4 linked regions of the Homo sapiens genome follow. The protein of the gene in region 1 purifies or fractionates together with the protein of each later gene. This does not show direct contact. Each region holds a gene or a part of one and is shown in the gene's direction. Other genes may lie near its edges. The genes, in order: TMEM9, NDC1, ACAD9 and OPA3.

Evidence for each region.
Region 2: the proteins of TMEM9 (region 1) and NDC1 purify together in Homo sapiens (co-immunoprecipitation; 2 studies listed by BioGRID and IntAct, with this or other methods). This does not show direct contact.
Region 3: the proteins of TMEM9 (region 1) and ACAD9 purify together in Homo sapiens (co-immunoprecipitation; 2 studies listed by BioGRID and IntAct, with this or other methods). This does not show direct contact.
Region 4: the proteins of TMEM9 (region 1) and OPA3 purify together in Homo sapiens (co-immunoprecipitation; 2 studies listed by BioGRID and IntAct, with this or other methods). This does not show direct contact.

The regions. Positions count from the first base shown.
Region 1 is NC_000001.11:201,144,460-201,151,484, reverse strand, and holds part of TMEM9 (proton-transporting V-type ATPase complex assembly regulator TMEM9 isoform a precursor), read left to right. Parts: intron 1-4,636; coding exon 4,637-4,745; intron 4,746-6,149; exon of another isoform or gene 6,150-6,376; intron 6,377-7,025. UniProt on the Homo sapiens protein: Transmembrane protein that binds to and facilitates the assembly of lysosomal proton-transporting V-type ATPase (v-ATPase), resulting in enhanced lysosomal acidification and trafficking.
Region 2 is NC_000001.11:53,835,272-53,842,592, reverse strand, and holds the start of NDC1 (nucleoporin NDC1), read left to right. Parts: upstream 1-4,296; 5' UTR 4,297-4,331; coding exon 4,332-4,388; intron 4,389-4,457; exon of another isoform or gene 4,458-4,632; coding exon of another isoform or gene 4,633-4,686; intron 4,687-6,972; coding exon 6,973-7,093; intron 7,094-7,321. UniProt on the Homo sapiens protein: Component of the nuclear pore complex (NPC), which plays a key role in de novo assembly and insertion of NPC in the nuclear envelope.
Region 3 is NC_000003.12:128,882,620-128,889,644, forward strand, and holds part of ACAD9 (complex I assembly factor ACAD9, mitochondrial), read left to right. Parts: intron 1-2,033; coding exon 2,034-2,127; intron 2,128-7,025. UniProt on the Homo sapiens protein: As part of the MCIA complex, primarily participates in the assembly of the mitochondrial complex I and therefore plays a role in oxidative phosphorylation.
Region 4 is NC_000019.10:45,574,799-45,581,823, reverse strand, and holds part of OPA3 (optic atrophy 3 protein), read left to right. Parts: intron 1-7,025. UniProt on the Homo sapiens protein: May play some role in mitochondrial processes.

The DNA.
Region 1 (7,025 bases):
TAGTAGTAGAGAAGTTGGCAAAGGTAGGTATTCTGACCACATGCTGTAGGATACCTAATGCTTTTGCAAAGCTGTGTTACATGTGTTATTCTGTGCCAGTCTTATAGCATCCTTGTAAAGTAGGTGGGATGGATTTTGCTCCCATTTTATAATAGCAGAGACAGAGGCCCAAAGAAATAATTTAGAGTGTTGAATTCATTTCTGGGTACCTCACTTTTAAAAAGAGAAGAATAACCCAGAATTCATTCAGAGAAAGGAGACTAGTGCGGTGAAGGGAAGTTTTAGCACATTGTCCTGGAAGGAATGGTTTAAGGAAGCAAGGAAAGCCTAAAGAGGAGAGGACTTGGGGACACACGATGATTGATTGAAAGCTGGCATGTTATGGGAGGTGGGACATGTGGGAGCAGGTACTGGTGTGGATCAGTTATGTTCAGTGGGGTTTCTTGGTGTAGAGTTGGGGCCAAGGATAAAAGCTTCAGGGAAACCGACTTAAGCATGAGTTGAGGGAGCATTTCTAATCTAGGCAGTTTTGGGAGCCAGGAAGCTCCGTTCTTGGAGGGCCCCGAGCACAGATGGGCTGAGGTCACTGTAGAAGAGATCAACATCAGATGAGAGGTCCGGGTCAGTGCTGCCTCTCCTGCTTTCTCAAAGCAGATGAGCTTTGAGAAAATACACATTTCCAGTACCACCACCACTGCTCGATTTTGATTCTTCAAATACGGAGTGAGGGTGAGGGGAGGCAGTAACCTTTCTTTCCTTTGGTGCTTAGGATGCAGTTGATCCAGAGCAACACTCGAGAATTTTGAAACTAGTTGAATTTCCAACTCTGAGACTGTCGGTGATTTTCTGAGAGGCAGTCTAGTTAGATAGACAGACTCTGTGTTCCACCTTCCTGACTTCAAATTTAGCTTAGCTGCTTGTTAATTGTGTGACAAATTACTTAATCTCCACTGCACTTTGATTTCCTTATCTATAAATAGTGGCAGTATTTTCTGTGTTAAGTATGTACGTGTTTGTGTGTGTGTTGTGCGTGTATGTGCACAGGTCAGTAACTATAGCACTTAGAACAATACCTGGCACACAGTAAATGCTTATATAAATGTTAGCTGATATTAATGTATATTATCATGCCTTACTGGTGGCCACATAGATAGTCATGGTCAAACTTACACCACAGACTGAGAAAATGGGCTCCTCCTGAAGCACTAGCCTTCTACTTAGGAGAATTCCAAGTAACCCCCTTGTATCTTGTGGTTATAGTTCAAATAGCATCAGTAAAAACTTAGATGGGCTGTCTTAGCCCTTCACCAGATAACAAGGCTATATCCCAAACTCCTTATGCAGGCAGACACTTGCAAATTTAGGAACACTCTCTCTGTCCTGGAGCTATAGATGGCCTGAAAACCCAAGGTTGGATGCCTGCAGAGGACGGAGTCCTGTCTAGACCTCTCAGGCTGTAGTTTATCTCCTTCTTCCCCTCAGAAGTCAGAATTAAGGGGCTGCTTGATGAATAGCCTTACATCAGGAACCTCAGGGCAGCTCCATTAAGGGTGGTGGGTGTAAACTGAGGCTGGAGGAAAGACTCCAGGATTCTAGGACCCAGTGACACTGACCTTGACTGGGAGTCATCCTGTGCTTGCCTGGAGCCTCTTAAGGGTAGGGTGGGGCCTTGACATTGATCTGAGTACCTCAGTGCTAGGGTTAGAGGAGGCCAGTTTGAGTGGGTCTTCTGGTCTCTGCCACATTTTCACTTTGCTGTCACGTTGGTCCATGCTAAAGAACACTTGCACCCTTCTCCTTGGTTGTGCAGAGTAAAGCCAGAATCATCTGACATGCGGTCCTCAGGTTTAATGGCCAAGCCATGTATGTTCCTGTGTTTACAGGTATCCTGCCACCTAGTGTTGAGAGATTATGACCATATGTGCATAAAAAGGCAAAAACCCCAGCTTTGCCCCATTGGTGGGTCCGGCAAGGAGATGTGTTATTAGAGACACTCCCAGAGCAGGAAAGCACTGAATAAGTTGGCTAGTTCCTTGCCTTTCAAACTTGTTAAAATAGAACTTCTCTGCAAACAAAATCCGTTTTGGAAACAAAATCTATAAAACATAAAAGTCGGAATTGCTCTGCCTGAGAGGGAACTGTCCCTCAGCCCCTCCCTGACTACCACCCCACCGTACAGTGGTTCCTGTGGGTCCCAAAAGAGTACAGTTTGAAAGACACTGACCAAGTTCAGTCTCCATTTATAAATGAGGGAACCGAGGCCTGGAGAAGTTAAATAAATTGCCCCCAATCACAGGAGAGTTGGAGACAGCAGAACTATTTCAGCTCCTTATTGCTGTTCCCCTGGGTAGCAAGATCCCACATTGAAGAACTCAGGTCGCCCTTCCAAACTGCCCCTGACACCTTGGCCTTGTGAGAAATCCATAGATTCCACTGCAATACTGGTATGACCTTCTAGACCCAGGACCCAGTGTAGCTCAGGTAAGGGAGGAATCTGGAGGCTTGTAGAGACTTCCTGGAGAAGGGAAGATGGCATTGCCTCTGGACAGGAATGGCAGCCAAGTGCCCTGGGTGACCCTTTTTCCGCTGCTCCCAGCGGAAGCAGCATGCAAGGCCTGAAAGCAGTACTTCCGGTTACAACAGGGGAGACCTGCTCAGAGCAGGGAATAACATGTTGGACACAGAGGTGGAACTGGATCATGAAAGGTTTAGATAAACTCATGTATGCCACATATGGCTTTTTGGGAGAACAGAGTCCTTTAGAGCACATCCCATTCTTAATCCAACACATGGTCTTTATATCACACACCCTTGATGCTTCTGCCAGAAACCCAGCCCTGTAGCTCAGAAGGGAGCTATGCTTGACTCTTGCAGGACTCCTGTCAGAGCTGGAAGGGCCTTTTAAAGATTATCCGGTGCAACCGCTTTATCTCAAAGAGAAGAGAACGGGCCCAGGGTATAGACACTTGGTGGCAGAGCCAGGACAGAGCCCAGGTGCATTGCAGCATGACACCTGCTTCACCTCTGCACACCTCCAAGGGGTTTGGATTTTTCCATTGGTAGTAATGAAGGTGCATTCTGTAGAGTTTTTTGCTTTGTCAGTGTGGTCCCTGAACCAAACAGGTTGGAACCATGCTGATCTGAGGAAGGCTGGGAATGAGAGGCCTGAGACAAGCCAGGTACCAGCCCAGGCCCCACTGAGGCTGAGTCAGAAGTAAAGACCTGTGGCTGAGGGTCTAGATTTGGGTTCTGGCCTCACTACCACTATGGAGATGCCACTTTGCCTCCTAAGCCTCTTTCCCTGTTTTTAGATGTGGAACCTATGATCTTTATCCCACCTTACGCAAGAGTGCTGTTAGATGAAAGTGGGTCTACTCTTCCTTTGGGAATCATGTAGTTACTAAGCCTGCTCTGGCCAGCACCCAGCTAGGTACTGGGAATATGGAGATGTATAAGACATAACCCTGTGTTCAAGGAACGTACATCTCCTGGGGAGACAGCACGAATAAAGATTGGATTACAATGCAGTGCATTGGCGGGGGGTTGGGGGGAGCTGGCTATTGGGCACAGGTGGCTAAGCTGAGAGTTAAAAGATGAGGTGGCAAAGCCATGCCCTCCTGGTGAGAGTGTGGGTGTGGCTCCTTCAGAGAGCAGCCTGGCAGATCCGTGTGGCTGGAGGTTGGGAAAGTGGGTGAGGGAGGCGTAGCAAGAGATGGAACTGGAGTGAGGTGGGTTGGGACCCCTGGCAGAGCAATTGAGTTAGCATTGGCCCTAGGGGCTCTGTGGAGGCACTGACCGGGCCTAAGCTGGGGAATGACATGACCAGAGTTGCATTCTGGAAAACCACTTGGCTGCCGTGGGAAGGTAGTATGTGTTAGAAAGGCCAAACTCGAGGCAGGAGGGCAGCGCGGAGGCTGGTGCGGTTGTCCGAGGAAGATAGGATGAGGGCCTCAGCTAAGACACAGCAGTGGGAGAGAATAAAGGAGATGGATTCTAGGAATTTTTAGGGAAGTAAAATCACTGGCCTTTGGTGATTTTACTTAGATGAGAGGAAGGCAGTGTCAAAGATGATTTCCAGGGTTTGACCCGGACAGTGAAGTGGACGGTAGAAGTGTTCTCTCTGCCATTGCAAATGGGGAGCCAGTTTGCAGGAGTAGGGAGTTGAGGGCAAAGGGTGTGCAGGGGCGGGTGTAGAGTTCATGGTCTCTATGGGACATGCACATAGTGACTCCTGTAGCTCATAGAGGAGAGCGGCCCTGGCTGGAGATTCTGATCTAAGATCCGTCAGCTTCTGAGTTGAACCTTTGGGACAGATGAGCACATGCCGGGAGAACATAGCATGAGATGAGGAAGGCGGCTGGGGGTAGAACCCTGGGAACGTTGATGGTTTTGGAGCCAGCCCTGTAGGCAGTTTGGAGAGCTGGTTTTGATGTGTAAGGGGCATGGGCTGTGAGGCTGTGGGTTAGGAAGGGTTTCTGCCAGCCTAATCCTTTATAAGCCCTTGGCCCTCTCTGGGAGCACCCTTCACCTTTGCCTAGCCCCTACCTCTCAGCTCCCCTGGCTACCTGCTTCTCTGGTCTTGAGGCTCTAAGACGTGGTGGCCCTGCCTCGACAGCCCTGTCTCTCTCTGTTGTAGCAACTGCCTGCACGTGGTGGAGCCCATGCCAGTGCCTGGCCATGACGTGGAGGCCTACTGCCTGCTGTGCGAGTGCAGGTACGAGGAGCGCAGCACCACCACCATCAAGGTAACGCCAGGGTCTCAGGAAGCCAGTGGGATTCCCACACGCCATTCTCCAATCGCAGACTGGCCTACACCCACAGTTTTTCACTTTATTCTGGAATGTCCCAATGGCTATGAGACTGGCTTCTAGGCTGGCCTAGTGCAGACACTGGGACCCACATCCCACACCTTCCTGGAGCCAGCTCCCTTCTCTGCTCTCTTTCCAGTAGTTACCATTACAGTGAGAGGGGAGAGCCCTGGGAGAGCTGCTGGAGACTCCTTTTTCCCTGCATTCTTTACAGTTTATTTCGTTCCTCTCCCTTCTTCTATTCATCCAGTAAATCTCTTTTCGGTGCCTGCTATATTCTGGGCAAGATGCTGCCAATGGGGAGGTTGGGCTGCCCTCCTGGAGCTTAGTCTAATTAAGCTTCCAAAGTGACTAAGCTCCTCTAAAAAGCATCAGAGCTGTGGACTAGGGCTGGGTGTTGGGTGCTGGGAGAACATCAGATTGGTTCTTTTGTGTTTTCCTGAACCACCTTCTCATTGATCATTTGGGTGAATTCAGGAAAGAGATGATAGACACAGTCACCACCATAGACGTCACGAGGTGTCTGTTCATTCCTGCACCAGGCAGAACTTCCCGTGTCTTCTAGAGGCTGTGAAGCCGCCCTAGCAGAGACCGTCATGACCCCCAGCCCCCCAGTGCGGCTTCCTAGTCCAGGTTCTAACAATCCTGGGCCAGGCACCTGGCACACACAGTACTCACTGATTACATAGCCATTTCTTTTTTTGTTTGTTTTTTAGAGACTGGGTCTGACTCTGTTGCCTATGCTGTAGTCCAGTGGCACGATCACAGCTCACTGCAGCTCTGACCTCCCAGGCCCATGCAACCCTCCCACCTCAGCCTCCTGATTAGCTAGGACCACAGGTGCACATCACCACACCCAGCTAATTTTTTAAATTTTTGGTAGAGACAGGGTCTCACTGTCTTGCCCAGGCTTGTCTCGAACTCCTGGCCTCAAGCACTGCTCCAGCCTTGGCTTCCCGAAGTGCTGGGATTATAGGTGTGAGCTCCATGCCTGGCCTAATGTAGCCCTTTCTGTTCCAGTTTGTAGCATTTTTCTGCTTGTCCTTTGAAGAGTCTATAAATAGCATTGGAAAATAATTCTCATATTTAAAGGCACTGCTGGGTCCTCCATCAGGTTTCTCCTTTCGAGGCACATTTAGGGGGCGGTGGTCTTCACTGCTGTCCTTCCTGCCTATTCCAGGGAGCCCTGTGCTGTAGCTCCTCTGTGTTCTCACCACTCAGGGAAAAAGCAGCTGTCTGTCCTTCACTCCCAGCCAGTGCCCTGTGCAGACCCAACTCCTTTCATCCACCTGAGGCAGCCCCTCCTGCAACTGTCATTCTCCTTCTCTGAACTTGCTCCAGTGGGCCTCACCCTCCAGGGACCAGATGCCTGAGACCTGAAATTCAGAGCCAGATGTCACCGCTGCTCCCTGTTTGGCCGGGAGGGAACTTCCTGGCATGGGGACCTCATCAGATACAACTTCCTAATCCCTCGTGTTTCCCCCAGTCCTCCTACCTAGGAGGCTCCCCTCAACTTCAGCCTATTGAAGACCCAGCCTCTGTTCTCCTTCCGCCTTCCTGGGGTACAGGTGAGGTCTGATTATTTGCCCTGTTTAAACAGGCGTGAACGCGGTGCCCCAATCAGGTGGGACATTGGTCCAGTGGAACTTGGCTATTGGCTGAGCGGGGCACCCAGCTTGAAAGTCCTGAGGTTCTTTTTTTCACTCTTCTTCACAGTCTAGGTAGGGCAGGGCTGAGATCAGAAGCCGGCAATGGCCAGGCATTGTGGAATTAGGAAAAGCATTTGAGAGGGAGTCAGCAAGTCTGGGTTTGAGTCACACCTCCACCATCTGGTAGCCTTGGGATCACAGGTGATCTAGCCCAGCAGTTCTCAATCAGATGATTACAGCCCCCCCAGGGGGCATTTAGAGGTGGGTGAAGGTGCTTTTGTGGTCCCAATAACAGGTGTATTACCAACACTGTTACAGGGACCATGGATGCTAAATGTCCCACCCAAAATCCCAGAGCACCCACATTGAGAAACATTGAATTTGCCTCATTAAATCTGTCTTTTCTGTAAAAACAAAATGACTCCAGCTTGTGAAGCACTGTGTATGTAAGAGATTCGTGGAGTTGTTGTTCTACCCTTGGCTTTCCCCTCCCTGCAGAGGGGCTGATGGGAGGGCAGGCGTGACCTTCACCCCCAGCACACACCTTCTTACCAGCCCTAGCCACTCT
Region 2 (7,321 bases), about 150 Mb from region 1:
CTTGTGTGTTGTTGGGCGAGACAGTGATGGTTTAAAATGAGATTCCAGAGTCTTCAGGGACTCCCATTATTCATATGTTAGATCTTCTTTGCCTATTTTCTCTATTTGTCACTTAAAATTGTTTTTGTTTCTTTATTCCTTTTTTGATTATAAAAGTTCTTCGTTTGTTATGACATTACTGTTGTGTTTCTTTGCTCTTCTAATTCAACTTCCATTTTATAATAATTGTTTAAATTTTGATTTCTTTCCTGAGTTCTATCACATAATTTCTGAGTTTTTCTAATACTAACTGGTATTGTTCTTCATGTCTTGTATCATTTTTTTTTTTTTAATTTTTAAAAACCAGAACTTTTTTTTTTTTTGAGACAGAGTCTCACTCTGTCACCCAGGCTGGAGTGCAGTGGCGCAATCTTGGCTCACTGCAACCTCTGCCTCCCAGATTCAAGTAATTCTGCTACCTTAGCCTCCCAAGTAACTGGGATTACAGGCTCCCACCACCATGCCCAGCTAATTTTTGTATTTTTAGTAGAGATGGGGTTTCACCATGTTGGCGAGGTTGTTCTTGAACTCCTGACCTCAAATGATCCACCTGCCTCAGCCTCCCAAAGTGCTAGGATTACAGGCATGAGCCACCACGCCCGGCCAACCAGAACATTTATTGGGTGACTAACCATCAAAATTCTTTTTTTTCCTTTTATTTATTTATTTATTTTTTGAGACAGAGTTTTACTCTTGTTGCCCAGGCTGGAGTGAAATTCTTAAGATGAACTGGATGCTGCAACAGCTGCCGTCTTAGGTCTAGGTGTTGTTCCTTCACGGAATCCCTGCCTGAATCTGTGGTATACACTTTTTAGGTGCCTCATTTGACTAGTCCTGGTGGTATTTCATCTTTCAGCATTGGTACTCCAGTGTTACTTCCTCTTGTGCTTGGCAAGGTGGCACATGTGCCACAGGTTGACTACTGAAGGGCATAGGCCTTAGGGGCACAGCAGCAGCACAACATGTGTGTCTTACTGCAATGCTTTCCAAACGATGGTGTTCCCTTTGTGGCTGAGACCAAAGAGGTCTTGTATCATTTAAAAAATTTATTCTATTTCAAATAATTAGTTTATAGCTTTCTTTTTCTTTTCTTTTCTTTTTTTTGAGATGCAGTCTCACTCTGTCTCCAGGCTAGAGTGCAGTGGCACGATCTCAGCTCACTGCAACCTCCACCTCCCTCGTTCAAGCTATTCTCCTGCCTCAGCTTCCTGAGTAGCTGGGACTACAGGCATGTGCCACCATGCCCAGCTAATTTTTGTATTTTTAGTAGAGACGGGGTTTCACCATGTTGGCCAGGATGTTCTCAATCTCCTGACCTTGTGATCCGCCCACCTTGGCCTCCCAAAGTAATTCAAACGGATTACAGGTGTGAGCCACCACACTCGGCCAGGTTATGGCTTTCAAAGGCTCAGAGAGCAACTTTGGATAGTTGCAGGCACTTCTGGGTGGTGCTTTCAGCAGCTACAGGGTGCTCAAATCAACAGAGTGGTTCTAACAGCAGCAGGGGCACCACCCTCAGCAGCTCAGCATTCAGTGTTGTCTCATGGCTCTAAATGGAAGCAGTAGCTTCCTGGTATTTGGGCAGTAACTCCATTCTGCTCTTAGCTACTACAGCCCCGTTCTTTCTTTCCTATGCTTTTTTAGCCTCTCCAACAACTTTGTTATCAATTCCCTGCATTAAATCCCCCTTTGATATAGGTATCAAAAGTTTTTGTCCTGAAGAAACACTGTCCAATATAGTTAATTTCTTCCACTCATTCATTATTCATTAAATAAAAATTCATTTATTACTTACTAATGTAATGGGTACTTTGGAAGCGATGATAAACAAGACAAAGTCCCTGCTCTTGTGAAGTCTGTATATTAGTGAGAAGTCAGACAATAAGAAGTAAACAAACAAGATGATTTAAGACTGTGATAGGTGCTATAAAAACAGAAGCAGAGGCTGGATGCGATGGCTGATGCCTGTAATCCCAGCACTTTGGGAGGCTGAGGCAGGCAGATCACCTGAGGTCAGGAGTTTGAGACCAGCCTGGCCAACATGGCAAAACCCCGTCTCTACTAAAAAATACAAAAATTAGCCAGCATGGTAGTATGCGCCTGTAATCCCAGCTACTCAAGAGGCTGAGGCAGGAGAATCACTTGAACCCGAGAGGCGGAGGTTGCAGTGAGCTGAGATCATGCCACTGCACTCCAGCCTGGGCAAAGGAGTGAGACTCTGTCTCAAAAAAAAAAAAAAATAGATGTGGCTTAAACAATAAATAATTGTCTCTCTTGTGTAAATGAAATTAGGAGGTAAAGGCAGGTAGCCTAGAACTGATATGGTTGCCATAAATAATCAAGTCTCCTTTAGGCTCAGTACTTCATTTTCCCTACAGTGTGACCCCCTTTCTGTGGTCCAGTATGGTGCTAGAGCTGCAGCCAACACATCCCAAATCCAGGCAGCTGAATGGAGGATGGGATTAAGAAGAGGCAAAGACCATCATGCAGTAGCTCCCTTTTAAGGGGGTTTCTAGGAAGCTACCATGCAATACTTTGATTATATTTTATTGGCCTGAACTCAGTCAGCTGGCCATACCTAGCTGCAAAAGAGGCTGGGAAATATAACTATATGCCCAGTTAAAAAACTGGGAGTTCAATTATTATGAAAGAAGGGGAGAATAGATATTGAGGCAGACAACGAGTAGTCTCTACCACAAGAACCTTAGAACCTGAGGTGTCTTTATGAACACGCATTTGGACTGATTTTTTTTTTTTTTGGACAGGGTCTCACTCTATGGCCCAGTCTGGAGTGTGATGGCGCCATCACTGCTCACTTCAGCCTGAACCTCCCAGGTTCAAGCAATTCTCCTGCCTCAGTCTATGGAGTAGCTTGGACTACAGGTGTGCACCACTACACCCGGCTAATTTAAAAAAAAGTTTGTTGTTGTTGTTGTTGTTGTTTTTGTGGAGATGAGGTCTCACTATGTTGCCCAGGCTGGTCTCAAACTCCTGGCTTGTGATCCTCCTGCCTTGGCCTCCCAAAGTGCTGGGATTACAGGTGTGAGCCACTGTGCCTGGCCTGGACTAATTCTTTACAAGTTTTCTCCACCACCGGATAGATCTCTTCACGGCAGAGACTTGATCTATCAGTTGTATTCCCAGTTTGTCCTACAGTGCTTTAGACATGATTGATAGTAACATGATTTTGGAAGTGAATAGGATATAATCTTAAAGCATTCAGGAAGCCATTGTTAGCAAACGTTGCAGAGCAGTAGGTGTGATCTCAATTCCTCTCACCAGCCTATGCATTTCCTTAGTCAGTAAATCACTGAATCTATTTCTGTCTTGAGTATTGCATGTTGACTGTGGCATGTGATTGAGCATAAAAAGGCGTTAGCGATATGCATCCAGAGATCTCACTGAGGTCTAAAGCACTGAGAAGACTTCATTAGGTGAAACTTGGGTTGGTGAAACACCTTTTTTCTTACTGGCAGTATATTAATGATAACATTTGTATAGCATATTATTTACATCCTCACAACATCACCAGGATATTTTTATTTTCATCCTTATCTTACTGTTGAAGAAATGGAGGCTCAGAGAAGATAAAAATATTCAATTTAGCAAGTGGCAGATCTGGAAGTAGAAACCAGATTTTATGAAACCAAAGGCATCTCTAGAGAATTTTTTTTTTATTTCAGTAAAATTACTGCGTACCTATTGTGGAGAAGACCACCACATCCTTTGGTTTCACTTTTAGGTGACTTATAAAGTAATAGGGAGAAATGAGGGCAGATCATTTTGCTAGCTCTAACTGAAGAATTCCAGTCAATCAATACTGTGGCTGTTATCGGCTTTATAAAAGACTACTATTCCCAGCATGCCTCAAGGCACCTCCAGGAAGACCTTGACTCCCAGCATTCTGTACTTTGGAACTCCGAGTCCCAGAATGCAACATTCCTCCTACTTCCTCTCAGGGGGCCGTCGAGACTACAGTTCCCAGCATGCAGCGCCGCCACCTGCTTCTGGCGCCCCGCTGGACCCTGCTTCGAAGGGACCGTTTGGTCGCCAGAGGGCGGTTCCTGGAGTTACAGCCGCGTTTGCGGGACGTGTCTGCGCGGCAGTCCTGGCCTGTTGAGCTTGTCCAGACGAAGCCTCGCAGGGATGGGTTGGAGCCTGGGCCGGGCTTCGCTCAGGCAGCGTTTGAGGCAGACCCAGCAGGGTCCTCCTGGGGCCTTCCTGCCTTTGAACTGCGGTGGCGGGCGGGCGCACGGTCTCCTGTACGCCCTAGACTAGGGGCCGCCATCTCCATGGCCACGGCCGTGAGCCGGCCCTGCGCCGGCAGGTCGCGGGACATACTGTGGCGCGTGAGTGCGGCGTGCACTGTGGCACGCACTGCCAGGGTCGGGCCGGGCGGGCAAGCTCTGATCGCGCGTGCGCGCTGGGCGGGGGAGGGCCGGTCCCGGGGCAGCGTGGAGAGAACGCGTGGGGAAGGCACCACTTGGGGGACTGATTGCAGGGTTGTGGGAAGTCCTGAGTGGAAGTTGGTTACGGGGTAGGAGAGGGGTCCTGAGTGGAAGGAAGCTGGTCAGAGTGGGACGGATGGACTGAATGGAAATTGGAATAGGGAGTGAGGCGGAGTTTTACGCAAGGGTACCGTATCCAGTAGGTGCAAAATAAATAACTTAATTTGTTTCGTTAAGAAGTGGGAAGGAATGCACGGAATTGGAAAGAAATGTGGCATTAGTAGAGGCTGGGGTTAGGGTCCAGTAAGCAGGGCAGGTGTTCTTTGTAAGGTAGAATGGGACTGAGCTGAGTGGAATAGTACTTCCTCCTTAAAGTTACGGAATTAACAGTACTACATCGCTTCTCTGGAGTGCAAAGAGAAAGAGGAGAAAGATCCCTTTTGGAAAAGTGCTTCTATCCCAGTGCACTGCCATCTCCCCTGTATTCCAAACTAAAAACTTTTGGGTCCGTAAGTCTTATCTTTTTTTTTTTTTGAGCCGGAGGCTCGCTCCCTGTTGCCCAGGCTGCAGTGCAATGGCGCGTTGTCGGCTCACTGCAACCCCCGCCTCCAGGGTTCAAGGAGTTCTGCCTCAGCTTCCCGAGGAGCGGGGATTATAGATACGCACCACTACGCCCAGCTAATTTTTGTATTTTTAGTAGAGATGGGGTTTCACCATGTTGGTCAGGCCGGTCTTGAACTCCTGACCTCAAGTGAGTCATCCGCCTCGGTCTCCCAAAGTGCTGAGATTACAGGCGTGAGCCACCGTGCCTGGCCTCTAAAATTTTTTTAAAAATTATTTTTATAATAGAGATACGATATCTTCTCCAGCCTGGTCTTGAGCTCCTGGGCTCAACTAGTCCTCCTGCCTCAGCCGCCTAACTATTTGGGACATCAGGTGCATGCCATCGTGCCTGGTGTATGTTTAGCATGCATGAGTACTTCATTCCTTTTTGTGGCTGAATAATCCACTGTATGGACATACCACATATTTTGTTTATCCATTCATCAGTATGTGGGTATTTGGGTTGTTGCCACCTTTGGCACTTGTGAGCCACCGCACTTGGCTGACAGTGTCTTCTGAAGCAAAAAAGTTTTAAATATTGCTGATGTCCAATTTATCTATATTTTTCTTTTGTTGCTTATGCTTTTGGTGTCATATCTAAGAAACCATTGCCAAATCCAAGATCATGAAGGTTTACTCCTATGTTTTCTTCCAAGAGTTTTATAGTTTTAGCTCTTACATGTAGGTCTTTAATCCATTTTGAGTTAATTTTTGTATAGAATGTGGGATAGGAGGCTGGGCGCTGTGGCTCACGCCTGTAATCTTAACACTTTGGGAGGCTGAGGTGGGAGGATCACTTGGGGTCAGGAGTTCGAGACCCCATCTCTACTGAAAAAAAAATTAGTCAGGTGTGGTGGCGGGCACCTGTAACCCCAGCTACTCAGGTGGCTGAGGCAGGAGAATCACTTGAACCCGGGAGGAGGAGGTTGCAGTGAGCTGAGATGGCACTGTTGCATCTAGCCTGGGGGACAGAGCGAGCTGTCTCAAAATCACAACATCAAAAAGAATGTGGGATAGGAGTTCAACTTTATTCTTTTTTTTTTTTTTTTTTGTTAGACAGAGTCTTGCTCTGTTGCCCGGGCTGGAATGATGCCTGGCTAATTTTTAAAAAATTTTTTATAGAGACAGGGTTTTACCATGTTGGCCAGGCTGGTCTCAAACTCCTGGCCTCAAGTGATCCGCCCACCCTGGCCTCCCAAAGTGCTGGGATACAGATGTGAGCCACCACGCCCGGCCTCAGCTTTTTGGTGGACTGCCTCCTAACTGCATTGTCTCTGGTTTGGTTCGTGTCCCAACTCCTCCATCTTCCTTAAAGCCAGCTTTCAGTAAACAGACATGTTTTACCTTGAGCAACATGAATTTGATTGTCACTTTCATGCTTAAAACCCCTCTATATCTTCTTGTATTATTCAGCAGTAAATATTTTCCTCCTATATGATAGATACGGGCAATTCAAACATGAATAGAATGCTACAGTGCCGTAGTTGCCCAGTAAAGGTTCATATCTGATGATTATAAATACAGTTACAGTATACAGGTGGTTCCCATAAAATGTGTACAGCCTTTATATATTAATATAGCTATCAATTAAGCCTAGAGAGACAAGTATTAGTTGCTCTAAAACAGCTGTAAATCAATGCCCACCACCCCTCATACAAAGTATGATATTTGATGTTGCACCTAACTTTGTACTAATGCAGGCATCAGCTCACTGATACTATAAATTCTTTAGTGGTACGTAATGTTATTACTAGTAGTGAATGTTTGAGTTACGGATTATGATCTGAGTTAGTGGTTAACATCCTGTATGAAAAGATAGGATTTGCATAACTGAAATAATTTAACTGACTTCATGAGTGAGGGTTTTTCTTTTTGTTTATAGGTTTTGGGCTGGAGGATAGTTGCAAGTATTGTTTGGTCAGTGCTATTTCTACCCATCTGCACCACAGTATTTATAATTTTCAGCAGGATTGATTTGTTTCATCCTATACAGTGGCTGTCTGGTAGGTGATACTCAACTTGGGGAGAAAGTTATAGGACCTACTTCTCAACATAAAAATTGCATTATGTTTCAAGCAGTTTATTTTCAATTACTGCCTATGTTATATTGACACATCAAAACATTCACTTTGAGATAATTTTAAGATGTCTCCTTCGTAACATAAATCACCTTTTTATTATGTAATAAGATTAATAAGCTTGTCAAAGACTGTGATCATAGGAACGAAAAG
Region 3 (7,025 bases), on another chromosome or scaffold:
GAACTGCTGCAGGGATGGGTGGGAAGTTGAGTGGGTGGGATTTGGGTGCCTGTTTTCCCTATCAGCAGTCTCAGTCAGAGCCGCCTGCTTCTGTCTGTTTTACATATTTGGTTTCTGCACTAGATTTCTTTGAATAACAGGTTCCACTTTTTTAGATAATTTACAAACTGTTTATTGCAATTGAACTCTCCTCCCCTAAGGCATTGACCTGATTTGATAACATCAGGATCTTTCTCCCACGCCCCTGCAATCTCTCCTGTGTGGCAGGTTTTCTGTGGTTGTACCTGAAGGCCAATTAGTTGCCAGGCAGTCTTATCTGGCCTGCCCACTGGTACCAGAATGATCTCTAACACAGCCCATTGCACAAGACCCAAGTGTCAGTGAGCCTCTGTGTTCAGTGAAGGAGACTGAGCTTTGATATAAAAGGCTGCAGAGTGATGGAGCCATCAGCTTGTTTTTTTTTTTTTTTCTTGTTTTTTTTTTCCTTGAGACAGTGTCTTACTCTGTTGCCCACCCTGGAGTGCAGTGGTGCAATCACAGCTCACTGCAGCCTCAACCTCCCCAGGCTCAGGGGATCCTCCCACCTCAGCCTCCTGAGTAGCTGGAACTACAGGCGTGTGCAACCACGCCCAGGCTGGTTTTGAACTCCTGGGCTTTAAGCAATCCCCCTGCGTCAGCTTCCCAAAGGACTAGGATTACAGGCAGTAGCCACTGCAACCAGCTAAGCTTGTTTTTTTCTTTTTCTTTTCTTTTTTTTTTATGGAGTCTCACTCTGTCACCTAGGCTGGAGTGCAATGGCGCAATCTCGGCTCACTGCAACCTCCACCTCCCGGGTTCAAGCAATTCTCCTGCCTCAGCCTCCTGAGTAGCTGGGATTACAGGCGCGTGCTACCAAGCCCGTGTAATTTTTGTATTTTTAGTAGAAACGGGGTTTCACCATGTTGGTCAGGCTGGTCTCAAACTCCTGACCTCGTGATCCGCCCGCCTCGGCCTCCCAAAGTGCTGGGATTACAGGCGTGAGCCACCGTGCCTGGCCTCCAACCTTTTTTTTTTTCTATACCACCTTCAGGGTGGTTTTGGAATGGATGGAGGCAGGGATTCCTTTAAGTTGGCTGTCACTTTTAGTTAGGGACTCACCTATAAGCCTGTGGTCCTGGGCCCAGAGAGGAGAAAGCAGTGCGAGCATATTGATAGAGTAGAGAAATCTGTTGGCTGATTAGCTGTACAAGGTCTGAGGAGAAGGTTGAGGTCTCCCCAAGACTTCTCTAGAACACTTGGTGAGAGGCGCCATGAGGACAGGTGATGCTTGGGCTTATAGCTCTGACTCAGGACATCACTGCTCAACAGCCTGAAGCCCACATCCAAAGCTCATGTCATGCTGGCAATTGAAGGGGTAGCAGAGCCCAAAAGTCCAGAGGGGCTCAGCACAGGGAGCAGATGTCTGTGAGCAGGAGAGACAGCGGCTGTAGGGATCGATGAGACTTGGTAAGCATGATGTGCTCTTGTCAGCATAGCATCTTTGAGCTCACACAATAATTGATGTAGAATTGTCCATTTCAGTAAGGAGTTTCCACATCCACTATCTTCCACGATTCTCACAAGGGCCTTGAGTAAATATTACCTGCATGTTATGGGTGAGAAAGGGGTAGTTTAGAGAGCTGAAGGGATTTGGTGAAGGCCACATAATGAGTAAGCCTGAAATCAAGGACCAGACCCCCAGGCTTCTAAATGTTAGTCTTGGGCTCCTTGTTTCATGGGACTATTATCATCCCTTGTACTGAGAAGGAAAACTGATGAAAATCGGGAAGAACCTATTTGAACAGGGGAGGGAGATGGATGTGGGTGGTGGAGCCTGCACATAGTTTCTGTATCTCAGGAACCTTGTGAGGTTTGCTTTCCAGTTCCTTCAGTACGTCATGTCCCGCTGGCCAGGGTGGAGTGGAGCACATGTTTTTCCTTCCCTTTTAACTGATATTTCCGTGATGGGAGTGTGCTAAAAATTAAATTTTTTAGAAAATATTTACTATTTTTAGAAAGAAGTTTTCCCATTTCCAGAAGTTAGCCAAGATGAACTTAATGAAATCAATCAGTTCTTGGGACCCGTGGAAAAATTCTTCACTGAAGAGGGTATGTATGGTTTTCTTTACCATTGCCGATTTCCATTGTAAGGGCTATTTGGTTGATATTTATATTAGAAGTGACATACATAGGAGAAGTCTTCTTGAGGGAGAAATGGTTTCCACTCATAATATTTTGCTTTAGGTTTCATCCCTATTGCCATTTAATTAAAAAACATCCAGTTAAATGCTTCTCATTGTATTTGTGGTTCAGGAGCACTTTAAACATTTCCATACTGTTCCAGGTCAACACTTCCATAAAGCTATAATAAAAATGAATAACTAAAAAAATTAGATGGCAAAAAGCCAAGGCCACACACCATACAAGCCCATGGAGCATGTGTTGGTTGTTGTGGCAGTGTACAGTTGCTCTTAGTGTTTCTAAAGGTTGAGTTTCAATTTCTGTACTTTGGTAATTGTAAACAAAGAGTGATTTGTGGACCAGCCACAGTTTGGCACCTGCATGGTGAGGCAGCATTTGACCTCAGGTCCCTCTCTCAGAGCTGTTGGCCGGTCCTCCAGCCAGGGCCTTGGTGGAGAGTTCAGTGATGGTGGATGGACAGCAGGTCTTCCCTAATAGTAGGATCCTGGAGAGCTTTTGTTTATATGAATTTTATCTATCAATATTTGCCATCTTAGGGGTTATTTTATTTTTATTTTACTTTATTTTTTTGAGAAAGGGCCTAGCTCTGTTGCTCAGACTGGAGTGTGGTGGTACCATCTCATCTCACCACCACCTCCATCTTTCAGGCTCAAACAGTCCCCCAACTTCAGCCTCCTGAGTTGCTGGAACTACAGGTGCGCACCCCCATGCCCAGCTAATTTTTTTGTATTTTTCATAGAGACAGGTTCTCACTATATTGCCCAGGCTGGTCTCTACTCCTAGGCTCAAGTGATCCTCCCACCTTGGCCTCCCAAAGGGCTGGGATTACAGGTGTGAGCCACCATGCCTAGCCCCTCTTAGAAATTAAAACTGAGAAATTTAAAATATACTGTGGGGCTGGGTGCAGTGGCTCACGCCTGTAATCCCAGCACTTTGGGAGGCCAACGGGGACAGATCACCTGAGGTCTGGAGTTCAAGACCAGCGTAGCCAACATGGTGAAACCCTGTCTCTACTAAAAATACAAAAATTGGCCGGGCATGGTGGCGGGTGCCTGTAATCCCGGCTATTCAGGAGGCTGAAGCAGGCGAATTGCTTGAACCCAGGAGGCAGAGATTGTAGTGAGCCAACATTGCACCACTGCACTCCAGCCTGGGTGACAGAGTGTGACTTTGTCTAAAAAAAAAAAATAAAATATACTGTGTTCATTTGTTTAAAAATAATAAATCCATTACATGTTAACATAATATTTTTAATGAAAAATATTTTGTTTTTGTTTTTCCGAGACAGAGTCTCACTCTGTCACCCAGGCTGGAGTGCAGTGGTGCAATCTCGACTCACTGCAACCTCTACCTCCCAGGTTCAAGTGATTCTCCTGCCTCAGCCTCCCAAGTATCTGGGACTGCAGGCATGCACCACCACGCCCGGGTAATTTTTGTATTTTTAGTAGAGATGGGGTTTCACTATGTTGGCCAGGTTGGTCTTGAACTCCTGACCTCATGATCTGCCTTCCTCAGCCTCCCCAAGTGCTGGGATTACAGGCGTGAGCCACCGCGCCAGCTAATGAAAAATATTTTGAAAAATAATCAGGCCAGGCGCGGTGGCTCACACCTGTAATCCCAGCACTTACGGAGACTGAGGTGGGTGGATCACCTGAGGTCGGGAGTTCGATACCAGCCTGACCAACATGGAGAAACCTCATCTCTACTAAAAATACAAAATTAGCTGGGCGTGGTGGTACATGCCTGTAATCCCAGCTACTCAGGAGGCTGAGGCAGGAGAATCGCTGGAACCTGGGAGGCGGAGGTTGCGGTGAGCCGAGATCGCGCCACTGCACTCCAGCATGGGCAATAAGAGTGAAACTCTGTCTCAAAAAGAAAAAAAAAAGAAAAGTAAGTTAAAAAAAAAAAAAGAAAAAAATTGATGGAAAGAGTGACATTGGTTGAAAGTTATGCAAGTCCTTTTAATGTTTGGCTTATTAGAAGACAGCTGGATTCTCATACCTGTTTGTGCACGTAACCTCTGGAAAAGTCCACTGTGCAGTCTTTTTTTTTTTTTAACTGTCTTTTTTTATAATCTTCAGACATGCTTTTTGTTTGTTTGTTTCTGAGACAGTCTTGCTCTTGCTTTGTCACCCAGGCTGGAGTGCAGTGGTACGACCTCAGCTCACTGCAACCTCTGCAGTTGAAGTGATTCTCATGCCTCAGCTTCCTGAGTAGCTGGAATTATAGCACGCACCGCCACGCCTGGCTAATTTTTGTATTTTCAGTAGAGATGGGGTTTCACCATGTTGGCCAGGCTGGTCTTGAACTCCTGACCTCAAATGATCTGCCTGTAATCCAAAGTGCTGGGATTACAGGTGTCAGCCACCGCACCTGTCCTGACACGTGCATTTAAAGCAAGAAACACACACTTCCAGGACATAGGGCTCTGTCAGCAATAACTGTCATCTTTGTATTTGCAGAGATGTAAATATATAAGAAACCGGCTGGGCACGGTGGCTCACACTGGTAATCTTAGCACTGTGGAAGACTGAGGGGGGCAGATTGCTTGAGTCCCAGAGTTTGAGACCAGCCTAGGCAATGGAGCGAAACCCTGTCTCTACTAAAAATTTAAAATATTAGCCGGGCATGGTGGTGCGCGCCCATAGTCCCAGCTACTTGGGAGTCTGAGGTGGGAGAAGGTACCCAAGCCTGGGAAGTCAAGGCTGTAGTCAGCTGTGTTCATGCCATTGAGCTCCAGCCTGGGCGACAGGAGTGAGACCCTGTCTCAAAAAAAAATAAAAATAAAAATAAAAAAATAAATAAATATATATATATATATATATATATGCAAGAAACCACTGCAAACCAAACCCACTCCCTCTCACAGGAACAAAGGTCTCTTGGAATAAATAGCAAATGCTGGAATAAAAACTATGTTCATTCAGCTGCCATGATGTGAATTCAAAAAGGAAGTTAAATCCAAGGGCAAAGCAGAGAAAAGAACATACAAAAATACACCTATTTCATGTACATTCAAAGAGGAGGCTAATCACTGTGGACAAAGGGCCCTCTGGAATGACAGCTGTAGGCAGCCAGCAGTGCCACGGAAATAGAGGCACTGTCATCTGGAGACACAGAAAAATCACATCCTCCCACAACTGGCCTCTATGAAAACCAACCAGGACAGACAACCCTTCCCCAAAAGTAATGGCCAAGAATAAAAGCACAAATATTGCTGGAAATCCAAGTAGCCTGTTTTACTGCTTTGAGTGACTTATATGCAAACCTAAGACTTTTTTCTGAATCCTTGATCAAGATTTATTCATATAAAGGCCGTACATAAATTCTGGGAACATGGTACTTTGGACTATATATTGGACTCTGAGCCAAAACGTTAAATACACTACACTGCGCCCCACTGTACAGTCTTCAGAGAATTAGAATTTAAAAGCAAGTAACATCTTAAGTAGTTTTAGGCCAGGTATGGTGGCTCATGCCTGCAATCCCAGCGCTTTGGGAGGCCGACGTGGGTGGATCACTTGAGGTCAGGAGTTTGAGACCAGCCTGGCCAACATAGTGAAACCCTGTCTCTACTAAAAATATAAAAATTAACCAGGTGTGTTGGTGCCCACCTGTAATCCCAGCTACTGGGGAGGCCGAGGCAGGAGAATCACTGGAACCCGGGAGGTGGAGGTTGTATTGAGCTGGGATGGCGCCACTGCACTTCAGCCTGGGTGACAGAGTGAGACTCCATCTCAAAAAAAAATAAAAACTAGTTTTGATCCTGTGGGACCCCCTAGAAGCAGCTCAGGTCCCCCAGAACCTCTTTGAGAAGTGCCAAATTGTCAGCTGTCATTACATTGCTTGGTTTTTGTTTGTTTCTTATTTCACACCTGGTGATCACAAATTATATGTTGCTAGTTTTAAAAGTTGCTTATTTATATATAAACATAATTTATAATTTAGAAATACTTATTTCTGCTTTTTTTCCTAGTGTTTATCTTCCTATTTGTATCTTTTTTTAGCTCCCATAGTCTCTTGTTCTTTTATTTAAACTTTTCCTATGTGGTTTGTCAGGTTTTTTTTTTTTTCAGGTTTAATTAAGGAATAATTGATTTACAATAAATTGCACACACTGTCATGTGACACATAATGACATTCAAGTCAATGACAGACCATATATACAGTGGTGATCCCATAAGATCATCATACCATATTTCTACTGTATCTTTTCTATGTTTAGCTGTGTTCATATACACAAATACTTACCATTGTGTTACAGTTGCCTACAGTGTTCAGCACAGTAATATGCTGTACAGCTTTTTTGTTTTGTTTTGTTTTCCTTAAAAAAAAAAAAACAAAAAATATTTAACAGTGAGATGGGGTTTCACTGTGTTGCCCAGGCTGGTTTCCAACTCCTGGGCTCAAGTGATCCTCCCGCCTCAGCCTTCCAAAGTGCTGGGATTATAGGCATGAGACACCACGCCCGGCCTACTGTACAGGTTTGCAGCCTAGGAGCAATAAGCCATACCATATAGCCTAGGTGTGTAGTAGGCTCTGCCACCTAGGTTGTGTAAGTCCATTCTGATGTTCATACAGGGAGAGAATCACCTGACGCATGACTGTATTTAGAGAGTACCCCTCAGGAGCCATCAGTGCAACAGAGGAAGTGAACGTACTCATTACCCGTCAAAGTTTCCTTGTGCCTCTTTTATTTCCCCCCTGTTTCCAGGCAACTGCTGATCTGTTTTCTCTCACTATAGATTAGTTCGTATTTTTTGGAATTATATTATGTGTGATTTTGTCTGGCTTCTTTCTGCATA
Region 4 (7,025 bases), on another chromosome or scaffold:
GTCTCAATCTCAAACAAACAAACAAAACACCCTCCCGCACAGCCAACTCTGCGTGAATTACTCTTTGTCTTGCAGTTCTCCTCTCTTGATGAATCAGCTCTGTCTAGGCAGCGGGCAAGGTGAACTCCTTGGGCGGTTACACACCATTCATCCCTCCATCCATTCATTATTTCCTTTAGCTGGTATTTTGTGAGCCTCTGCCCTGTGCCAGGCCTTGTGCTGGCAATGCTGGCGAAACAGCAGGGACCAAACCAGCACCAATCTGTGCCCTCAAGGAATTCCTAGTCCTGCGGGGGACAGACGTATCCCCCAACAGTGGGCAGAGCTGAGATGGGGGAGCCCACTGGGCACCTGACATGGCATGGGGTTCAGGGAGGGCTTCCTGGCAGAGGAGACATCTGAATTGGGACCTGAAGGGTGAGGACAACACCAGGACAAGGCGTAAGGAAAGCACTGGGGCAGAGGGAGGAGCACACACAAAGCCCACATGATTAAGGGAGTGCACTTTTTTTCCCCCTCTGTAAGTTTGGATGCTTAAAGTTTGCTTTCCAGGGCCCGGAATTCTTGGTTGTTCGGTGTTTGGTGGGGTCTTTGTTGGGGCTGCAGCTCTTAGAATGGGAAAGTATTAGATTTCACAGTTACCAAAGTGCTTTCCTGTTAGCCATCTCATTTGACCCCCACAACTGTTTTGTCCCCATGTCCGGAAAGAGGAATGACTTCCTCTGGTTTATAGAAGGGAAAATGGAGGTGTTGAGGGCAGCAGTTAATTGCTCAGGTCATACGCAGAGATTTGTGCCAGAGGCGAAACTTTGGACACTGAATTCCTAGACCCAGTTTGTTTCCTGTCTCTGCCTGTCTTCCAAACACTGTGACATTCTTAGCGTTGTGGTTTAGAAAATGGCTTCTGGAGCTGGGCGCAGTGGCTCATGCCTGTAATCCCAGCACTTTGGAAGGCGGAGGTGGGTGGATCATGAGGTCAGGAGTTCAAGACCAGCCTGGCCAACATGGTGAAACCCTGTCTCTACTCAAAATACAAAATTAGGCAGGTGTGGTGGCGCACACCTGTAGTCCCAGCTACTTGGGAGGCTGAGGCAGGAGAATTGCTTGAACCTGGGAGGCAGAGGTTGCAGTGAGCCAAGATCACACCACTGCACTCCAGCTTGGGCGACAGAGCGAGACTCTGTCTCAATAAATAAATAAATAAATAAATAAATAAATAAATAGGCTTCTGTGCTGGGCGCGGTGCCTCCCACCTATAATCCCAGCACTTTGGGAGGCCGAGGCAGGCAGATCACCTGAGGTCGGGAATTAGAGACCAGCCTCACCAACATGGAGAAACCCCGTCTCTACTAAAAATACAAAATTAGCCAGACGTGGTGGCGCATGCCTGTAATCCCAGCTACTCGGGAGGCTGAGGCAGGAGAATCGCTTGAACCCAGGAGGTGGAGGTTGCAGTGAGCCGAGATCACGCCATTGCACTCCAGCCTGGGCAACAAGAGTGAAACTCTGTCTCAAAAAAAAAAAAAAAAAGGCCGGGTGCAGTGGCTCGCGCCTGTAATCCCAACACTTTGGGAGGCCAAGGTGGGCAGATCACGAAGTCAAATTTCAAGACCTGCCTGACCAACATGGTGAAACCCCTTCTCTACTAAAAATACAAAAATTAGCTGGGCGTGGTGGCACGCGCCTGTAATCCCAGCTACTCGGGAGGCTGAGGCAGAAGAATCACTTGAACATGGGAGGCGGAGGTTGCAGTGAGCCGAGATCGTGCCACTACACTCCAGCCTGGGTGACAGAGCGAGACTCCATATCAAAAAAAAAAAAAGAAAAAAAAAAAGAAAGAAAATGGCTTCTGGAGTCAGACTGACATAGGTTTGAATCCCTACCCAGACTGGTGACTTTGGGTACGTCATTTAGCCCCTCTTAGCTTCAATTTCCGATTCTGTACATTGGGTATTATGTAATGGTCACATTAACTGGGCTTGTACTTTGTGCCACGGCTTGTCTGCAGCACCTTCCAGCCTCTGGCACTGGGTCCTCACCAGTTATGATGAGGTAGATACTATTATTATTATTATTATTATTTTGTGTATATACTATGTATGCATTATGCTGTAAATAATATTTATTGTGTTGTGGTGAGGATTAAGTAAATGGATATAAAATGTTAAGTCAGTGCCTGGCATAGGGTCATGGCTGTCACGTAGATGTTATAGATACAACAGGCAGGAAAAAGCAAAACATCTTGCCCTCAGGTACCTTACATTCTTGTGGAGGAAGCCAGACAATAAATGAAATAAATAGTTGGCTGGGCCCAGTGGCTCATGCCTGTAATCCCAGCACTTTGGGAGGCTGAGGCTGGTGCATCACTTGAGGTCAGGAGTTTGAGACCAGCCTGGGCAACATGGTGAAACCCCATCTCTACTAAAAATACAAAAATTAGCCAGGTGTGGTGGCAGGCACCTGTAATCCCAGTTACTTAGGAGGCTTAGGCAGGAGAATCACTTGAACCCAAGAGGCAGAGGTTGCAGTGAGCCGAGATTGCACCACTGCACTCCAGCCTGGGTGACAGAGTGAGATTCCATCTCAAAAAATAGTTAAAAGATGAAGTATATTAGATAGCAATAATTGCTCTAGGAAAAAAATCAGGGTTGTAGAACAAGGAGTATTTAAAGGAAGGCTATAAGCCTAGATAGGATTGTCAGGGAGAACTCACTGAAAATATGCCAAGGAGGGAGGGAACGAGCAGCATTGCCATCTGGGGGAAGAAACGTTCCAGCCCAGAGGATCCCGCATGCACACAGGACCTGAGGCATGAGCGTGCCTGGCACACAGGACAGAGGAAACTGATGACGGGAAAGGGGGACAGTTTGTATGGGGCCTGTGGGTCACTGCAAATGCCTTGGCTTTACTCTGAGTGGAACAGGACTTACTGGAGGGTTCTGTGCAGCAGAAGGACAATATCAGAGTTCTGTTTTATTTTATTTTATTTTATTTTTTGAGACAGAGTCGCACTCCGACACCCAGGCTGGAGTGCAATGGTGTGATCTTGGCTCACCACAACTTCCGCCTCCCGGGTTCAAGTGATTCTCCTGCCTCAGCCTCCCGAGTAGCTGGGATTACAGGCATGCGCCACCACGCCCGGCTAATTTTGTATTTTAAGTAGAGATGGGGTTTCTCCATGTTGATCAGGCTGGTCTCTAACTCCCAACGTCAGGAGATCTGCCCGCCTTGGCCTCCCAAAGTGCTGGGATTACAGGCATGAGCCACCACGCCTGGCCCGGGAGCAGAGTTTTTAAGGATAACTTGGTGGGTGAGGGGAAGCCAGTGAGCCAGGAGTGCTGATTGGTCAGAGATGAAATCATAGGAATTCAGAGATGTCTTGTGCTCAGTTAGTTCCTGGGTGGCGGTGGGGGAGGGGGAGGGCGGGCACAAGATCAGATGAGCCAATTTTTTGATCTGGGTGGGGCCAGCTGATCCATCAAGTGCAGAGTCTGCAGAATATCTCAAGCACTGATCTTAGGAGCAGTTTAGGGAGGGTCAGAATCTTGTATCCTCCAGCTGCATGACTCCTAAACCATAATTTCTAATCTTGTGGCTAATGTTAGTCCTACAAAGGCAATCTAGTCACCAGGCAAGAAGGAGGTCTGCTTTGGGAAAGGGCTGTTACCATGTTTGTTTAAACTATAAACTAAGTTTCTCCCAAAGTTAGTTCAGCCTTCACTCAGGAATGAACAAGGACAGCTTGGAGGTTGGAAGTAAGATGGAGTCAGTCAAGTTAGATCTCTTTTGCTGTGTCAGTCATAATTTTGCAAAGGCAGTTTCAGGATTACAGGCGTGAGCCACCACGCCTGGCCTCAAAATCTAAAATATTTACTCTCTGCCCCTTTACAGGAAGAGTTTTCTGACCCTGCTCTAGAATAGTATCCCTGCCCTTGTTTTTTGACATTGACATTGGAGCCAGTCCTCTGATTGATAGTGTGTCCCGATGTCTGGAGTCTCCTGATTGCTTCCCCGATTGGATTCATGTTGAACATGTTTGGCGGGAACACCACAGACTCGAGGTGCCTCCTAAGGACATCCCTTCAGGGGACTCCTGAGGTCTATTTGTTCTGTCATTTGTGATGGTGATTTGGATCGCTTGGTTAAGGTGTAACCATGTCAAGAACCTTTCCTTTTCCTCTTAGTAATGAATAACCAGTAGATTTGTTTACAAGGTAGAGCCAGCAGGATTTCCCATGGATTGGGTGTGAGACAGCCGACTGGAGGAGGGGCAGGTTGGACAGAAAGACCTGGAGCTCAGTTAGGGACAGGTCGAGTTGGAGATGCTACCAGATATTGCAATGTACTGGCTTCTTACATTTACACCTTTTAATTACATCATTAGTGTCTTCACACTGCTGATTGCCCTTTGCTGTGGCCCCCAGCCATGGTGATTGGAATTTCCCAGGGTGCACTGGCGGCCCTGCTTTCTCTCAGGTCAGGCGTCCTGAGCTGACCAGCAAATCCAGTATCTGTACCTTTGGCTGAGATACTTTTGACTCAGCAGGCTGCGCCCAGCTGTCTCACAGGAGAGGCTGGAGCAGTAGCTGTGGCTGCCTGAGGAAAGAACAGTACATGCTAGAAGCATAAATCATCGATGATGCACCCTGTTGGGGAGGCAAAGATCTTTTTAAACACAGAATTCCTTTGTTTAAATTATTTTAACCCAAAAGTAAAGGAGGTTGGTGATGTTAGGCAGGTTGAGGCCATGCCTGCAAAGTGCACTTTTGGTGCTCCCAGGGAGGCTGTGAGATATCTCTGGGCAGTAGGAAAATTCCAGCTCATCTGTGTTTATTCCTTTGGCGCGCACTGGTCCTTTTTCTGGTTTATCACACACAGTAGGCAGTAGAGTGACTGGTCCCCCAAAGATGTCCACATCCTTATCCCAAGAACCTGTTGAATATGTTACCATGCACAGCAAAGGTGACTTTGCAAATGTGATCAAATGAAGGATTTGGGGATGGGGAGATGATCCTGAATTATGCAGGTCAGGTCAGTGTGATCACAGGGGTCCTTATAAGGGAAAGAGGGAGGCAAGAGAGGGAATGATTTGAGGGATGCTGCCCCGCTGGCCTTGAAGATGGAGGAAGGGAGGCATGAGCCAAGGAATGCGGGCAGCCTCTGGAAGCTGGAAAAGCCGAGGAGATGGATTCTCCACTGGAGACTTCAGAAAGGAACACAGCCCTGCGGACACCTTGAGATTAGCCTAGTGAAAGCCATTTTGGACTTTTTTTTTTGGGGGGGGGGGGATGGAGTTTCATTCTTGTTGCCCAGATTGCAGTGCAGTGGCACGATCTCAACTCACTGCAATCTCTGCCTCCTGGGTTCAAGCGATTCTCCTGCCTCAGTCCCCTGAGTAGCACCCACCACCACACCTGGCACCCACCACCACACCTGGCTAATTTTTTGTATTTTTAGTAGAGATAGGGTTTCACCATGTTGGCTAGGCTGGTCTTGAACTCCTGACCTCAGGTGATCCACCTGCCTTGGCCTCCCAAAGTGCTGGGATTACAGGCGTGAGCCACTGCGCCCAGTTTTTTGTTTTGTTTTGTTTTGTTTTTTGAGAGGGGGTCTCACATGGTCGCCCAGGCTGGATTACAGTGGCATGATCTCAGCTCCCTGCAACCTCTGCATCCCGGTTTCAAGCGATTCTCCTGCCTTGGCCTCCTGAATAGCTGGGATTACAGGCGCATGCCCTAATTTTTGTATTATCAGTAGAGACGGGGGTTTCACCATGTTGGCCAGCTGGTCTTCAACTCCTGACCTCAGGTGATCCACCCGCCTTGGCCTCCCAGAGTGCTGGGATTACAGGCGTGAGCCACCACAACTGGCCCCCATTTCAGACTTCTGACTTCTGGAACTGTAAAATAATAAATTTAGGGCAGGTGCGGTGGTTCATGCCTGTTATCCCAGCACTTTAGAAGGTCGAGGCAGGAGGATCACTTGAACCCAGGGGTTCAAGACCAGCCTGGGCAACAAAGCGAGACCTTGTCCCTACTAAAAATAAAAAACAATTAGTGGGGCATGGTGATGCATGCCTATAGTTTTAGCCACTCAGGAGGCTGCGGCAGGATTGCTTGAGCCCAGGAGAATGAGGCTGCAGTGAGCTGTGACCGCACCCCTGCACTCCAGCCTGGGTGACAGAGCAAGACCCTGTCTCAAATAATAATAATAATTTGTGCTGTTTTAAGCCACTGCATTTGTGGTAGTTTGTTATAGTGGCCGTGGGAAACAGATACACCATGATCATTCATTCAGGTTGCTGAGGTCATTTTTTCAGAAGTGCTCAGCTCTGTGGCCATTCTTATGAATTTAGGCCATGGACTTGGTTTCAGTTTTCTTTTTCTACATAGCCATCTGATCCAAAGCTTGGTGGCTTACCGTAGTAACTCTTAGCCAGGTGCAGTGGCTCATGCCTGTAATCTCAGCACTTTGGGAGGTTGAGGTGGGTGGATCACTTCAGGCCAGGAGTTCGCGACTAGCCTGGGCAACATGGCAAAACCCTTTCTTTACTAAAAATACAAAAATTTAGCGGGTACCTGTGGTCCCAGCTTCTCAGGAGGCTGAGGCAGGAGAATCGCTTGAACCTGAGAGAGGTGGAGGCTGCAGTGAACCGAGATCGTGCCACAGCACTCCAGCCTGGGCAACAGAGCAAGACCCTGTCTCAAAAAGGCAAACAAACAAAAAACCCAGTCACTCTTAGTTTCTGTTACCTTTGTGGCTTGCCTGGGCTCAGCCGGACAGTTCTTTTGCTGGTTGCTGCTTGGCAGGCTCTCATCCAGGTGCAGGTGGAGGTGGCTGGGCTGGAGTCATCTGGAACTGGCACTGGGACTGGGGAGTTGGTTCCCTCTCAGCGTAGCCTCTGGGCCTCTCTTCTCCACGTGGTCTTTCCTGCAGGGTAGCTGAATATCTCACATGGCTGCTCAGGACTCCCCAACAGCCAGATTTTCATGAGGGAAGAAGCAGAAGCTGCAGGTTATTTAAGG